Regions from separate parts of the Homo sapiens genome. Here regions 2, 3 and 4 are each reported to be linked to region 1. The links are microRNA targets in miRTarBase. Many come from high-throughput screens and were not tested one by one. Region 1 holds a microRNA gene; each other region holds the end of a gene's coding sequence. Distances are between the middles of the regions.
The links. The annotated mature microRNA hsa-miR-497-5p reads CAGCAGCACACUGUGGUUUGU and lies in region 1 at 2,245-2,265, shown strand. An mRNA with a match to its seed (bases 2 to 7 or 8) in the 3' UTR can be bound and repressed. Matches are read on the target gene's strand: a 7mer-m8 pairs with bases 2 to 8, a 7mer-A1 pairs with bases 2 to 7 and ends in A, and an 8mer does both.

Region 1 (4,349 bases):
CAGCCGGGGCTACAGGGTAAGCCAGGCCAGCTCTTCGCGCCTGGGTCCCTTCTCTCTTCGGCCCTCCTCCCCTCTCTCCCTCCCACCGCCCACCCCCCCAACCCAAGAAAAAAAACTGCCTGTGCAACAGCAATGGCAGATTCCAATCCTCCAGGCTTTCCTAAACCACCACGGTGACCAGCCAGGGGGGAGGGGAAGGGAGGAACGGGCTTTCCTGCTTCCTTAAGACAGGGGCAATGAGCTTGACCTCCTGGCCCCTAGCCCTTTGAGGAGTGATTCCCCCCGGTCTGGAAGCCAGGTGTCCTGGACCCTAGCCCCCGAGCGGTGGGGGGGGCCTGGAGAGACGGGGAGGAGGAAGGAGGGAGTGACTTCCAAAATTGGCATCGGGACAGAGCAGGGCTGGCGGGAGGCAGGCAAAAGACGGAATTTTCCTGAAAAAACGGGGGTATCTGAGGACCCCAAATTTGGGGAGCTAGTCCAGGACCGTCCTCCCAACATCCTAGATTTTTTTGGGATTTTTTGGGGACCCCGGGACCCCTCTAGATGGGGTGAGGAATGTAGTGTTGGGTGAATCTGACTGGGGCATTGCAGCTGCCTCTCCCGCCGAGTTGGAGACGGATGGGCTGGGACGGGTTTTGGGGGGGTGTCCCCAATTCTGACTGGGAGTGGAGGAACCCCTCCTGAGATCTCTTGTGGGGGTGCCCCCTCCCCAGGGCACTCCCCAGTCCCTGAGCCAGCCGAGAGGAAGGAGGCCAGCGATGCGACTGGGGCGGCTCCTTTCTCCTGCACCCCAAATGTGAGGGATGCACCCTAAATTTTGCTCTTTTCAAAATAGGGGACCAGGATCTCAGGGGAGAGTAGCTGAGGTAAGTGGGGAGGGAAGTGTCCTCTGTTTTCAGGAGAGACGTGGCGGTTGGGGGGGAGGTTTGGAGGTGCGTGCTGGGGTGGGGTTGGCTTTGTCAGTCTTGGAATTGGGGGGATGATTGGAGAGGCTTTCTCTTATACCCCTAAACTGCAGCCCCCCAGACGGAAACCAAAGGCTGAGACCAGAGAGCCCCCCAACATCCCCAGCCGTTAGGATAGTGTTTAATTTCTCTTTCACCCCCCACAAAGGCTCTGCCGAGGTAGGAGCTGGGGGCAACTGTTAGTTTGGGGGCTATGGAGGGTGGTGGAGGAGCAGGAGGCCTTGGCAAGATTTGATGGAGGGCAGATAGGGGTGTCCGGGAGGGGTCTGGCATCTTCGGGGGCCTAAAAAGACTGCTTACATACACCACCTTGGATCTTTCAGATTGCTAAGAGTTTTGGGGGGTGTGTCGGAAGAGGGGGTGGTAAAAGATGCGATGGGATATAGGAAGATAACTTCTGGATTTTAGGGGGTCATATTTTGATTTGCAAAAGGAGTTTTGGCCCTTGGATTTTGCTTTCTGAGGGGTGTTTTTAAAAAATCAAGTCCTGGACAGGAGAAAAGGGCTGAGGGAAGGCCTGGAGTTGGGGGTGGGGAGAGGCATGTTTGTCTCAGCTTAAACGTGGCTCTCTGGGGTGGGCCCGCCTGCCCTGGCCTGGTGGATGGGCTGATGGAGGTTGCTGTGGGGGCCGGCTCGGGTCCTCAGGGGCCCTGGGGAGTGGGAACAGCACTGGGGGTTGAATACCTGGCCCCCCAGGTCCAGATGGCCCTCTTCCTGGGCTCTGCTGCTCCCCTTCCCCCTGGTCTCCATTTCCTGCCTTTGGCCTCCATCTTGTGGCAGGCCCAGGGCCCAGGGCGACTTCCGGCCCCCCTCTCCCAACCATGTTCCGGCCCCACCACCTCTGGACTGCCAACTCCCAACCCTGCTGGCCTTGGCCCTCTGTCTCTCCTTGCTTTTCTCTTGGGTTCTGACCCAGGGAGAGGAAGGACGGACACAGGAAGCCTTGGGTCCCTGCCCTTGCTGAGACAGGAGGCAGTGTGTTGGCCCCTCCAGTCATTCCCTATTTCTTCTGCCTCTGACCCCACCCTAGGGATCCCCTGAGCTGAGTTCCTACAGAGGGAAGATGGTCCAATCTTACTACACTGTGAGCTCATCCCCATGGTCCGTCGCCTTCCAGTTGCCTGCTCAGCCCGTCCCTGGTTCCTCCCAAACGTTTTTGGGGGCCATGTTTGCCTTTTAAGGCTTCTCTATCCCCCCGCTCCTGGAGGTGGTGCTGGGGTCTTCCCAGCACTGCTATGTGCTCTCTTCCTTTCAACCCACCCCGGTCCTGCTCCCGCCCCAGCAGCACACTGTGGTTTGTACGGCACTGTGGCCACGTCCAAACCACACTGTGGTGTTAGAGCGAGGGTGGGGGAGGCACCGCCGAGGCTTGGCCCTGGGAGGCCATCCTGGAGAAGTGACACAAAAAACATCTGGGGCCTTGTGACAAACTTCTTGCCAGGTGGGCAAGGAGAGGGTGGGGTATGTAAGCACCCCTCTAAAATCTCCAGGGCAGTTTCAAGAATACTGATGGCCAGAGACCCTGGGAGTAAGTTCTGCCTCAAGAGAACAAAGTGGAGTCTTTGTTGCCCACACCCAGCTTCCCTGGCTCTAGCAGCACAGAAATATTGGCACAGGGAAGCGAGTCTGCCAATATTGGCTGTGCTGCTCCAGGCAGGGTGGTGAAAACTACCGAGGAGGGGCTGAGCCCCCATGGGCCGAGGAGAGAAGAGGGAACAGGCCTCTCCTGCTAATAATGTTAAGCAGACAGCACGAAGCTGAGAGGGAAATCTTTATTGTTTTCTGTATAAAAATGTCCATCAGATGAAGGTCAAAGGGGTTGGGGGCAGATGCTTATGCGGGAATAGCGAGGTGGCAGCCCCAGCAGCCTTTCAGCCCTCTCTCGTGCAGGCCTTGCTCGGAGTCCCAGGAGATCCACAGGTCCGGCATGAACAGTGAGAGGTCAGAGGTGGAAGGCTCAGCAGGAGAGGAGAGGAGGATCAGCAGAGGTCATGAGAAGGCCAGAATCCAGGGTCAGGCTGTCTGGAACAGGAAGTAAAATGGGCCGAGATGGAGCGAGCCCCCAGTGTGCTTCCAAGGCCACTCCCACCTCCCTGAAACACCCTGCTACGTACTGATCCAATGCCCTGCGCTGTGTATGAGAGCACCTTCTCTTCTGAAACCCCTATACAAGGGAGGGGCCCCTGCGGAGACCGTGCCCTGCCATCCAGGTGAGCCCTTTCTCCCCAACCCCGTCAGCTGTGTGGGAGGAGGAGGACTCCTACCCTGGTCGAAGTTGAGTTTCTTAGCTGGAGGAGTTTCTCCTAGCCCTTCAATATCCACCACGTCACTGTTGGCATCGGAGTCGTTCAGAGCACTGAGTGTCACATCTGGGAAGGGGGCATAAGCTAGGTTCTAGGTTCCCCTGACAGCCTCTCCCCCAGCCCCAAGCTTCCCAAAGCTTTGTGCCTCCTCTCCCCTCCCCTCTGCCCCTCTCTGGGAACCTCCACAGGGACAGGAAGAGAGACTGACCCTTCTTTGACCCAGGCCCAATTCTCTCACTAAACCTCAGATGGGACCTTTAACCCCTAGGCAGCAACTCCACAGCCCTCACCAGCCTTCTGTTTCTTTATGGGGGGACCCCCGGCCTCAGGGACACTGGAGCTGCTGGGAGGAGGGGCAGCTGGAGGAGGTGACAAGACACCAGATGCCACCTTCTTGGGCCCTTTCTTGGGTGACTCAGCTGGAAGGGGGATGCCAGAATCTTCATATACCTTGCGTTTCACAGTGGCCTTTATCTGGGCCCTGAAGAAAAGAGAGAAGAGGTTAGGAAAGGAGTCATCAGAGAGACTAACAGAAGAGGGGACGGGAGGGGAAGGGGTTCTGGGAGTCCCTTCATAAGAATCCAGGTCGGGGCCCCAACCCATTGGTAGGGTTCTCACTTTCTCGAAGTTTTACACTCACTCAGGATGGATGGAGTGTGGAGAGTGGAGTCCCTGAACTGAGTAGTGGGAAAGGCCCATCTCCTAATTCTCTTCTGGGAGAGACATCAGGTAGAGCTTGGTGATTTACAGGTGGATTGAGATTTACTGATCAACTAGTTCAGGGTCACCATATCCCTGGAAACACTGCAGTGGGGTCCTCAAACATTTATATAAATAACCAGGGGACTTCCATCATCAAATACAATAACAGCATCTCAGGCAACCTAAATTCACATTCTTGGAAGGATTACCACAGCATTTTAGGAACTTCTGACCAACTGTGACAATTCTATTCTTTCAGTCCTCAAGGGGATTCTAAAAAACTAGTGACAAAGTAGGGAAGCAGCTGAGCTGGAAAGGAGTTCTGAGGACGATGGAACCTTGGGTAAGGAGGAAGAAGGCTGCCCACCCGCCCTTTTCT
Region 2 (4,000 bases), not on the chromosome of region 1:
GCCAACAATGGCCACAGTTGTGCCACAAGTGCCCACCTCTCCCAAATCCAGCCTTAGTGTCCAGCCTGGATTCCTGGCTGACCTCAACAGGACACTGCAACGAAAGTCCATCACTCGGCACGGCTCACTCTCCTCCCGCATGTCCAGAGCAGAACCAACAGCCACCATGGATGATATGGCATTGCCTCCACCACCCCCTGAACTGCTGTCTGATCAACAGAAGGCTGGTTACGGAGGCAGTCATATATCAGGCTATGCAACGTTGCGGAGAGGACCCCCTCCTGCTCCCCCCAAAAGAGACCAGAACACCAAGCTCTCCAGAGACTGGTAGCCACCATAGGACTTTATTTTCATGATATCTGTAATCACTGCTACAATCAGCTCACCTGATCATCTGTGAATTCAGGTGTTCAGAGCCTCCTGGTATGATGTTATTCAGGTAGTGTCCAGCTATATGTGTATGTGTGTGTGTACACGTGCATGTACACACAGCTGTACAGTGTGTGTATATATGTATACATATATGTATGTGTATGTGTATATAGAGAGAGAGCTGAGAGTTATTCTATTTATTCCTTTTCTCTCCTAATCTGAAAATGGGTGTTCTGTATTTTGGGTGGAAGAGGCATAGAAGGGGATGTGTGTTGTCTCTTAAGATTTCTATATCATGTGGATTGGACCAAAAACTTCTAATCACTTATTTAGAAGGTATTTATAAGTGTCTGTCCATGTGTAGCCTATTCGTGCATGTTGTGTATTATATAACTAAGGAATAGATGTAGAATGTGCTATTTCTGGTTGAGAAAAATCACCAGAATGTTTGGTGTATCTATAAGGCTTTTGTGTTTGTTTTTCCCCAGTTGGCTGAAGTTAGAATTGCTTGACTGACACTTCATTGCTATACATGAAGGGGCACTTTAAATCAGGAAAATCTCTCAGCTTCATAGAACGGGTAACTAGTGCAGGATGGGGAAATGTTCACAGACATCATCTGTATGTGGTTGTGCATAGAAAGTAAATACATGGCGTAATTAACTCAGCTGTTCTAGCTGCAGTACTGCTGCAGTGATCCACCCACATTTAGGATGTGCTGACAGATAAGCTCTTTGCCTACAATACATGGATAATTAGTGCTATAATTCTGGATAGTTCCTTTTTAGTACTGTTTTATGAAGCTTTATCAACTTGGCTTCATGATCCTCACTTTGATTGATTTTAAGAGGATGGATAACACAGTTATCTCTGTAATGTTCTGTCCCAGTATGTCTTTGGGTCACCAGTTACCTTCTTAAAATATGTGCTTTAGGTAGGTGTTATTACATATCTGTAGACAATTGGTATATGAAATATACACATCCTGTGCCCCAATATGGTGCATTATGAAAAACAAAATCATTTTCTAAAATGCATTTTTTGAGCATTGCTCTATAGAAGGGAAGGGTGATGAGAGAACAGAACTGGCCCCTGTACAGGTGTCATTAATCTGGTTGTATATGGGTTATAATATGTAATACAAAAAGCTCATTAAGTATGGGACTACATGGAGAGGGAAGACAGTTTCATTTATAGCTACTGGGGCTACCAGGACCCTTGCTGACTGCAGCCTGGTTGTGATTAGTTCAGGTTACTAGGTGTTCTGATGGAGTGGGACAGTCCAAGTCCAGTAACTGACATTACGTTTTATGCGTGTGCAGTTTGGTATAACGTGGAGTCAGTGCTCTAACGACACACTATACTTCTATATGCTTTTTTCTGTGAATTTTCCTTGGTACATGAGAGAAATAAGTACTCTCATCAACTTATGATAAATTGGACTATTAGGAATAAAACAATCTCAGAGCAGCTCCTAAACAAGAGAATAAAAATGGGCCATCCCAGCACTTATAAGGGGAGCACATCTTGTAATGAAAGTCTGTGCCTATTGTTAATGATTACCAATGCAAACTGCAGAAATCAGTTGACATTGTCCCACAAGGAAAAAGTGATGCCAGTAAAGTGGGGGAAGAGATGGTAAATAATTCTAGAATGAGCAAAAGTGCTTAATTAGTACAGTATACTCAAGGTCTTGCATAACCCACACTCCACGAAAACCGCATCGTAAACAGAGAGTGAACAGCACCTCTCCATTGCTACATCTCCAGAATATTGTTCGGTTATGTTCATGTGGTTATGGAGCAATAAGAATATATACCATTAATTTTTAGGTCTTTCAAATTGTTCACCAAGTTTTGTGTTTGATATTTATGAAGTGATCTTTAACACATCTGCATTGTTAATTTAAGCATGCACAGAAATTTGGGTAATGTTTGAGTAGATTGCCAAGCGCTACTGTGATTCATGAATGAATTTCTCATAGTCTTCTGCCTGCAGTTTTATAGTTTGAGGGGCACCCATATTTGTGGGTTAGAGTTAGTAAGAATATGAATCCAGTTATCAAAGTATTCATCCCTGAGGTTTTGAGTTTTATTGTGGTGGTGATTTTCTCATGAGAAGGTAGACAACACTTCAGTTTTTCTTGAGGGGGAAAAAATGTACCCGCTAACCTTTTTTCACCCATGATTTGAGCCCTAAAACAACAGCCTTTATGTTTTCAGTGCAGGATTTCTTGGAATTTCTTGCTTGTATCAATCCTGATGATAGCCATCCTGAACAGATGCTTCTGGTCTGTTTTCCTGGAATAGCAGACATCCTTTTGAACACTAATGATGCCAGGAAGAGAGTAAGGCTAGAGGAGGAGACTCATTTTAACCCCAGTCCAGTGGCTTGTCCGACAACAGGCCATTTCCCTTTACATTCCTCCACAGACAGAAATGGCTATTAAAAATGTTTTAACCTCATGTATGAACTGAATTTAAAAAACCACTAAAGTGATACTTTATACTTCTGTTTTACTCCCTAGTGGGTTTTCTTTAATTTGGATTTTTGTTGGGATGTAGCTTTTCCTAGACTGTATTTCTGTAGCTCTTTTTCTCTGGTGTATTCATGGAAAGCATCTACTGCCGCACGACACTAGTACTGTGCCTTCTTTCACTGCCCTCTGCTCTGCAGCTCTCACCCAGCTTGGCTGCTTCAAGTCTGTGCAGTTGACTTGGCTGTACTGAAAAGTGAACAGCATGGATTAACTCATCCTGCTGCTGAGGGCAGTGCAAACAGGTGCTTATTAGAGGTAGTGACTTGCTTAATTAGTGACACTCCTAATTTCTACTATGGATAATTTCAAAGTAGAATCACTCTATGCTTAGAGTTTTGGCACCAATGCTGTAGGGCAGCAGAATCTATTCTCAGTAAAATAACTTATGGTTTATTAGATATTCTGTATTGGATTTTACCAGCTTGACTTTTACTGCTCAGATGCTTTCTTTCCCCCCCTTAGACGCTGTAATTCTCTTGGGAAGAGTAACTATTCTTAAGGTTTTTACAGATACCCACCTTAGTTGTAAATTGGATAGTTTATATTTCTGGGACTTTTTAAATGAAAATGTGGAATGTTAAGTTACAAAAGACTTTTCATCAGAAAATTTCAAACAAAGTAAACATGGCGTTTTATAGTCCTCTAAAATCTAGGTGCTCCCACCCACCAAAGGCATATCCTGCAAAGGGCTGTGAACTATCTTGGTGAACTGTCTTGGGTCCCCTTTCCATGTATGTTTTCTTGTCACTGAAAACAAACAACGCTGAGTTTATCAAGAAAATTTAAATTGGGGGATCATAATAATTCCAACCAAGTGACAACTCTGACATCAAGGTTATTAGGAGCTGTACATCCAATTCAAGTTTTATTTGCTGCTATTCTGGGAGAATAAACTTGTATATGGAGAATAAACTAATAAACTTGTATCGAGGAAATCCATAAAGTTATAAATTAGCCTGAAAAATATTTCAGGTAATGGTGTGGATTGGCCTGCTTTGACTCTCAGCCACCAACAGAAATCTTTGTCACCTTTGTTCCTCAGCTAAAAGTAATTTTGTTATAAACACAAAGTGACTTTAAACAGGTAAA
Region 3 (4,000 bases), 32 Mb from region 1:
AGGAAGCATTATGTTCAGATGTCAGGCTCCTTTCCACCTGACCAAAACTTACCATGCTTTGTGTTCTCTCAAAGTCCTAGCATATTCATCAGCTGGTGTAGGCTGCAAATCAGCATAAAAAAATGTATTTCCTTCCAAGCTTGATAGGCCTGAAGTTTTCTTGAGAAAGGAACAAGGCTTCTGCCTGACAACATACAAGCCAGTGCTGCACATCTCTGAGTCTTCATTCTCTCTCACTTGACTCTGTTCTTGGCACAAACAGGCTGGAATTTGCCTTAATAGCAGAGATCACCAGAGCAAGTCCCCATGGACCTGCCTGTGGGTATATCCTTTGAGCAGAGAAACAGCATTTCCAAGATCATCATGAACTGATGAATAGAGTCTTTTAAACTTATCTTTTAAGTAAAGAAGTACCTTAATAGCCTCAACTTAGGCAACTCAAATCCACACTCACTAATCAATCTGGGTTTTATGGTCAATTTGTACAGGCACTAAAACAACAACAAAACACCTTAAACTTTAAAGCAGATGGCCCCTAAATAGTTCTCTCCTTTAGTTTTGTTTGAGTAACCTAGGGATCTGAATATTATTAACCACATCTGGAAGTATGTGTGTATGCACGTATGTATTTTTATGTGTAGGGGTACAGACAAGAAACTGAGTTTCATGTTAAAAACTATATTCCTTATAAGGTAATCTGAAAGAGAATAAGGGGAAAGGGGAATGAATAAACAAGTAATCTGCGTTTTTAAAGCGGCACAATAAAACAGGATTTAAAATAAATTTAATATGATAAATATTAATGGATAGTATAGACTTCTAAGACCCTTTCATCCAATTGCCTTCTAAATCAATGGATAAATAAATCAGACTTTATTCTTATATATGCTGGTATAATCAGCAACTGCAGCATTAAAACAAACCTCTTAAGCTGGGTACAGTGGCACACACCTGTAGTCCCAGCTACTTGGGAGGCTGAGGTGGGAGGAAGGCTTGAGCCCAGGAGTTTGAGTCCAGGCTGGGCAAGATAGCGAGACCCCATCTCTAAAAAAATAAAATAAAATAAAATAAATAAATAAAACAAGCCTTTTAATAGTCTGGATCATATAGAAGATTAATATTATGATGGATTGCACATTAATGTCTCAAAGGACACCCCCCGCCAAAATCACCCTACTAAAAATCACACTGGGTTTCTAATCTTGGGGTTTAGAAATTTTCTTCTTATGCTTTAAAAACTCATTTTACTTCCTTTATCCTCTGATTTTTTGGGAAGACAGAGGGTGCTTCTTCTTGGACTCTTGAGTCCTGGACACTAAATTCCTCCCTCAGTTCTAGTGCCCAGGCTAAGCAGAGACACTAAACCCCTTACTTCCTCTCAGTGTTCTCTTTCAGCTGCCTCAATGCTTCACCTGGCTACATTCATACTTCATTCAGAAGTCTGAACAGGGCCGGGCATGGTGGCTCATGCCTGTAGTCCCAGCACTTTGGGAGGCTGAGGCAGGTGGATCATTTGAGGTCAGGAGTTCAAGACCAGGCTGGCCAACATGTGAAACCCCATCTCTACTAAAAATACAAAAATTAGCCAGGCAGTAGTGGTGCATGCCTGTAATCCCAGCTACTCGGTAGGCTGAGGCAAGAGAATCGCTTGAGCCTGGGAAGTGGAGGTTGCGGTGAGCCGAGATCGCACCACTGCACTCCAGTCTGGGCAAGAGTGAGAACCCGTCTTAAAAAAAAAAAAAAAAAAAAAAAAAGACTGGGGCAGAAAAGAGAGATGACTGACAGGTTATGGGAAGGTTCTGGCCCTTTGGGGTGCCAACACTAGATATGAATCCATTAACACTGACATACAATTGACCAGCTGTTATAGAGCCATTCTTGTATCCCTGAAAGGCTGAAATGGGGGAAAAGAGAGAAACAGACTGGCTAGAATACACAGCTCCTCTAGTGGCATTCCTGTTAAAACAACCTCATAGGTCAGAGATGCCACTGATCACTCCTAGATTTCAGTAAATATATAATAACATTAATCATTAATGTCTGAACTTGGGTGTTGGGGACTTTCAGGCTCTGTTTTGTGATTTATCATTTTCACTCTTTCCTAATAATACATCTCTCTCTTTCCTTATGATACAGTTGGTGGAGTCTGACAGAAGGAAGAATATGTAGGGGGAATATTGGGGATACCATGCGAATTATCACATATCAGAAGATAAAATAGAAACCAAAAGGTAGCATCTGTTTTCATCAAAACAGTTTCTTCTCATAACTTTTCTTGCTTTCATTAGAGTTTCCTTGCAGGTTGGCAAAGATTCAGGCAGGGTCCCCTAATGGTAAAATTTAGAATTAAAAAAATATTTATTGATAATATCTTTTTAAAAAATGTTTGGTAATCCCAACTAATCATTCAAAATGCAAACTGTAAACACGACAACAGCAAAAGGGTAACAATTGAGTGAGTAAGCAGACTGAACAGGTGACAGACTGAGCAAGAGTGTGGGGGGGAGCAACAGAGAATGTAAGACAGGTGCACAAGTGTGCTACAGACAGTGATAATTTGAGTGTGTAAGAATTACATTTGGACCACAGTGATTTCAAGGCAACCATTTAGGAAACCTCTGGGCCAAATACTAAAACACAGGAGGAATGGACGAGCCTTCTTTGTGAGCATGCTCAGCATGTTGGCATGGAAACAAGGAAGCATAGAAGCTCTTTAGTCACAATGAATGTCTACCATTTCTAAGATGCAAAGAAATTTTCTTTCTGGTCCCTGGGTACATCATATATTGTCTTTCCATGCTTTTCTTGACCCCGGAGGACAGCAGATGCTGTTCTAAAATCCCCAAAGAAACCCCTAGACAAAAATTTAAAAACCACAGTAGCATTAACACGGGGTTTGCTGGAATGCCCCTCCCTATCTTGGCCTATGATTTTCTTATGGGCACCTCAACAGGAATGGTTAAATTTTACCAATCTACTTGATAAAAAAGCCATCACAAACTTCAGTCCCATGGTCACAAAGCTAGAGTGGATGGGGGTAAGGGTGTGTATGTGTATGTATGTGTGGCTCTGGGGATCTGGACACTGCCCTCCCTCACTTTGTAACCCTTGCTCAGAACACTGGGGTTGCTTCCACTGGAGAGACTCCACGGTAGCTCTAGAAGTGTCATTAAATACTCAGTTCGCCAAGGTTGACCACCTCCATTGTCATAGGATGATGCAGCATCTGCAGAAGCGCTGTCTGCTGCCCCCTACTGATGGGGGTGGAGTGACAGGTGCGAAGTAGGCGTGGACTTTAATATTGGGTAAATGGGTCTGAAACAAGACAGAAACATTAAACGTTTAAGAGAGGGCTTAAACAGAAAGAGCAATGTTGGTTCTTAGAAAAACTACCGAGGGGCTCAATGAACATAAAAGCAGGGCAAAGGCTGAGCACTGGTCAGGATGTTAGAGGGCCTGGGTTCTACTTTGTTCCATCCTAGGTTGTTCTCAATGACCAGAACAACTCATATGACTTTGGTACCTGTTTGTGTAATAATAAAACTGAGGGCCGGGCGCGGTGGCTCACGCCTGTAATCCCTGCACTTTGGGAAGCCGAGACGGGCGGATCACGAGGTCAGGAGATTGAGACCATCCAGGCTAACATGGTGAAACCCCGTTTCTACTAAAAATACAAAGGCTAATTTTTGTATTGTTAGTAGAGACGGGGTTTCACCATGTTGGCCAGACTGGTCTCGAACTCCTGACCTCAAGTGGTCCGCCCAAGGATGGGAGATGGAAGAGACTCCTGGCAGCCAGGCAGTCTAGGAACCCTAATGTAAGTAGGCACGTAAGAGGCTCTGGTTGACCTGTGGCTCTCATTCTCTTTGGTGAAGAAAAAAAATGGCTGCAAGGCCACCCCCAGTGCAATTATGCTCACAGTCCTCTATGTCTGAAGAGGGGAAGAGGAACTGAGGCCAACTCGAACTCAAGATGAAGTTTGGTACTCTTTTATTTGCTC
Region 4 (4,000 bases), not on the chromosome of region 1:
TAATTATTTTTAAATCAATGTTTTATTCTAATTGTTGAAAATATGTTTTGAAAGTTTAATGTATAGAGTTTTGGAGTAGTGAGCATTGAAATTTTAGTAAATAATGTTGGGATGTTTCATTTGATAGTAGCATTAAATATTCTACATAGCTTCAATATTAATTGCTATTGTGGCGGATGCAGTACTCTACTAGGCTTCTGCTTATGGAATAGTCTGTAAATTATTGTAAGAAGTCTCATTTTTTCTGAAGTCTCTAATTTTTTTTTCTCTTTTTGAAGATATTATTACGATGGGGACATGATTTGTAAAGTTCAAGGCAAGAGATTTGTGTACAAGTTTGTCTGTGACTTGAAGACTCTTATTGGATACAGTGCAGCGGAGTTGAACCGTTTGGTCACAGAATGTGAACAGAAGAAACTTGCAAAGATGCAGCTCCATGGAATTGCCCAGCCAGTCACAGCAGTAGCTCTGGCTACTGCTTCTCTGCAAACGGAAAAGGATAATTGAGCCCCAGGACATTCTGAGACTCCAAAGTCTTTCTTAAAATGTTTAGAGCAAGTATAGCTCTTACCTTTATTACTGAATTTGAATCTTCTTTTATTTCTAGGCTGTACAGTCTGATGCATGATTTTTTTATAAATATTTCATACTCTTGTGAATTTGGATCTTTTTACTTTGAGCATATATTTTAGAATATGTGTATGTTAAAGGATCTCCACAATGTCTGCAGTGTGAAGGCAGGTTCATTGTGGAATAGTTTAACAGTCAGGAAGGCTAAACTGGTCAGTATTAATGTGTAGCCCTACCAAAAATAGCCAGTAGTATCTGAAAATGAAAAATAAATGAAGTATCTCTAGGAAACAGTCTGGCTTAACTATTTTTGAAAATATAACTGTTTCCCCTCTCTGCTGCTTTAGATGTTGCTTTACATAGAACCAGAAAATGGAATTTCTCAGCTAAAGCATGTGTGCCTGTTTCATCTAATCAAGCAGAGCTAAAATGTTCATACCGAATAAATTTATATTAATAAATTACTAAACTAAGAGTATCAGGTTATTTATATATTTGCAAGCAAAGGACAGTAAGAAGTTGACTGGCAAAAGAGCAGTGCTGAAGGAGGAGATCCAGGTTTAAATCTGGCTTATTAACTCAAGCCAATTTTAAGGATTTTCTGTATAGATTACTCATGTCAGACCAAGAATTTAAATTATTTTGAGAGAGGCATTTAATTCTAATAAACCAGCTGTTATAAAAATTATAAAATGATCTCTGTTTTTCCTGTCAGAGATTTAAAAAACTGAAAAGGTATACCTCAACCCAAAAATAAAGGTTTGTTTTGGTTTGTTATGGCTTCCTTTTTTAAAAAATTACCCTGTAGTGCCAGTTTATTATGCAAAGCAGCTTATATTCCTTTGTTTCTGATAAAATGAAGACTTTAAATCAGTCAGTAGTACTTTACCTTTCAAGGCATTAGTAAATTACTTGCAAATAGTTTTAAAAGGAAAATACGACCTTTGTTATAGGCAGTCTTCTCTTTAAGACAATACTTTTCCACTTGTTTTCCTTTTCCATATTATATATGTGTATTCATATAGCTGTATACATATTCAGTTGATCATTTTATAAACATATGAAGGCATAAAGATATACAGAAGAAAAATTATTAAACAACTCATTTTAAGATTCAAATTAACTAATTCCTGCATATATGACATTCCTTACATAAGCGAACACTAAACAAAAATGGCTAGAAATGTCTTTTTCTTTCTTTTCTCTCTTTGTTGTTTAAGGTATTAAGCACGAATTATTACATGAGACTGGCAGATAGCTATTAATCCTCTTACAGATTTGAGAAAGTTGATTCTCAAATATTTATGCACCTTCTCCTTCATTGTTTTCTTTAAATCTGTCCTCTTAAAAAGCTTCTTAAGAGCTCAGTTAATGCTTTTGACTTAACTAGGAGAAAAAGGCATGATAATACAGGCAAGATGGCATTGTTAGCAATTCTGGTAGTGGTTTGGAATGAATCCTAAGAGGCAGGGATCTTAAGGACAAGGAAGAGAAGAGAGAGAGGGAGGGATCTTTGATCTCTTTCTCTGGTAATCTTAATGCATAATTTTACTAAAACATGTTCTCAATTCATTCATATTATTAAGCTCTTCCTGCAGTTGATATCTGAGCAGAGTAAGATTTGTATTTCCATTTTTACTTTTTTGAAAGAGAATATATGGACAGATTATTAGTACAATTTGGGCACTGTGGTTTTAAGAATATCTGAGTAAAATAACAATATGAAATAATAAACAGAAGCTCTAACGTCAGGTAACAAATAGACAGCAAGAAAGGTTTTGCACCATCCTCTTACGGCCTAGAGAGTTGACAAGTTGCTTGTAGTTTTAAAAAAATAATAAAGTATACCCTTCTGGTATATCATCAAGAGCTTAAGAATCTTGGCTTTCATATTTAAAATGCTTTTGGGGAGACATATATTAAAATTTTAGCCAAGATGATAGACATGTCTCAATTATATATGTGTGTGTATGTTTTTAAAGCTAAAAACATTACTTTTAGATCCCTAGAATGAAAATTTTTTTCTCATCTATGCAATTCCCATATGGTTTTTTTTTAAATCATATTTTATTCATTTTCTCCCTTTAGCAATTTTCATTTTATTTCTCATAATTTGAACAGAGACAGTTCTCATACATGATCAGATGCTTTTTTTTTCTTCTTACCATCATTTATGCATGACATAGGTAATGTGACTAATTTCTCCAGTTGATTCAAGAAACTCATTACTTTGCCTCAAATTATATGTAAAATATTTGTTTTACTTAGGTTACAGTTATCAGAAAGGTAGTTTTTTTCTTCTATTAAAATATAACATTGTGAAAGAAAATAAAATTTATGCTATTCTTTGCTTTGTTTTTATAAATGAATTTTTCATAGAATTTACAGTATATTCAAAGGAAGAAAGATAAAATTATTGGTCATCATTTGTACCTTAGAAGTACAAGAATTTAAGTAAAAGAAATGTTCATTTTTGTTTTAAAATTTGTTTTCCATGTGAAGTTTTTATTGAGCCAACTTTCATACATATCTTGCTAGCCTAAAGTCTAAATATTTGTGTTGGCATCAGAAAAACAAATGAGGCAGAATTGCTATGTGTGGTTGATCTTCAGATAAATTGACTGATCACAGTTATTTTTGTATCAGTCTATGTTATTAGGAAAAATTGTTTAGTTGTTTTCTCCCCTGATTAATGGTGATATTCAAGTATGATACAAAAAGAATTGTACCACCAAATATTTTTGTGAGGTCTGCTGTTTTCCATATTCATTTTATGCTACTGCCTTTAAGAAAGAACTAGTGTATCCTTGAAATAGCACAAAAATGTTTTAAAATTCATAATTGCAAAACAAATCTGTGACTAACTTAATGTCTTCAGATCTAAAGGGTGTAAAAATATTGATACTTCAATATTTCACTTGCTGCCAGGAAAAACAAAATTCTCAATCTTTTGTAAATGGGAGGAGGACTTTTGCATACATTTTTACTCTTTAAATAACGACAACGACACTTATACTGTCATAATAACAATTATGTATTTCTTTGTGGTTTTAATTTTTTTTGTAATTTTACATAAAACAGTTATTTTCTATTTTTACGCAGATAAATATTTGTGCATAAAATGTAAAAATAGTAAAATGAGAAAAATAAAACTATTATACAGTATGTTTCTGTGTTGCTTAAAAGTTTTTTTTCCTGAAAACAAAATCTTAAATCCCCAGGATATTTTGTTGGATAGTAATCTGACAGTCCACTTATGATACGTTGTACATAGGATTCCGATGCATTTTTAAACTTAAAAGCTGTCAATTTGGGAAGAACATATTTCACTGAACTAAAATTAGTAGGTTCATCTCTTTGAGGAAATTAATGAAATTCCATCTACAAAGCCAAGTTGTTTTAGAATAGTAACAGATGAAGCTGTCAGAAG

Region 2: the mRNA of RAPH1 is a reported target of hsa-miR-497-5p. Seed matches in the 3' UTR shown: 7mer-m8 at 3,130-3,136 and 8mer at 3,782-3,789.
Region 3: miRTarBase lists FBXL20 as a target of hsa-miR-497-5p. The part of its 3' UTR that is shown has no 7-base or 8-base seed match.
Region 4: the mRNA of GABPA is a reported target of hsa-miR-497-5p. Seed matches in the 3' UTR shown: 7mer-m8 at 907-913.

The regions. Positions count from the first base shown.
Region 1 is chr17:7,015,895-7,020,243 of GRCh38, reverse strand. It overlaps MIR497 (microRNA 497), which reads left to right and starts at 2,222; the gene lies at 2,222-2,333. BACC1 (BPTF associated chromatin complex component 1) reads right to left here. Exons shown (of 6, transcript NM_174893.4): 4 at 3,559-3,749; 5 at 3,230-3,334; 6 at 2,724-2,983. The coding sequence ends at 2,979. RNASEK-C17orf49 (RNASEK-C17orf49 readthrough) reads right to left here. Exons shown (of 8, transcript NR_037717.1): 6 at 3,559-3,749; 7 at 3,230-3,334; 8 at 2,720-2,983. MIR497HG (mir-497-195 cluster host gene) reads left to right here and starts at 590. Exons shown (of 3, transcript NR_038310.1): 1 at 590-866; 2 at 2,856-3,175; 3 at 4,230-4,349. It also overlaps MIR195. RefSeq lists enhancers at 1,516-1,685, 3,037-4,236.
Region 2 is chr2:203,435,768-203,439,767 of GRCh38, reverse strand. RAPH1 (Ras association (RalGDS/AF-6) and pleckstrin homology domains 1) reads left to right here. Exons shown (of 14, transcript NM_213589.3): 14 at 1-4,000. The coding sequence ends at 331. Among named protein-coding and RNA genes, the nearest start is that of RAPH1, 98 kb to the left of the region's middle.
Region 3 is chr17:39,258,253-39,262,252 of GRCh38, forward strand. FBXL20 (F-box and leucine rich repeat protein 20) reads right to left here. Exons shown (of 15, transcript NM_032875.3): 15 at 1-3,315. The coding sequence ends at 3,208. Among named protein-coding and RNA genes, the nearest start is that of STAC2, 34 kb to the left of the region's middle.
Region 4 is chr21:25,768,726-25,772,725 of GRCh38, forward strand. It overlaps GABPA (GA binding protein transcription factor subunit alpha), which reads left to right. Exons shown (of 10, transcript NM_002040.4): 10 at 279-3,735. The coding sequence ends at 507. Among named protein-coding and RNA genes, the nearest start is that of GABPA, 36 kb to the left of the region's middle.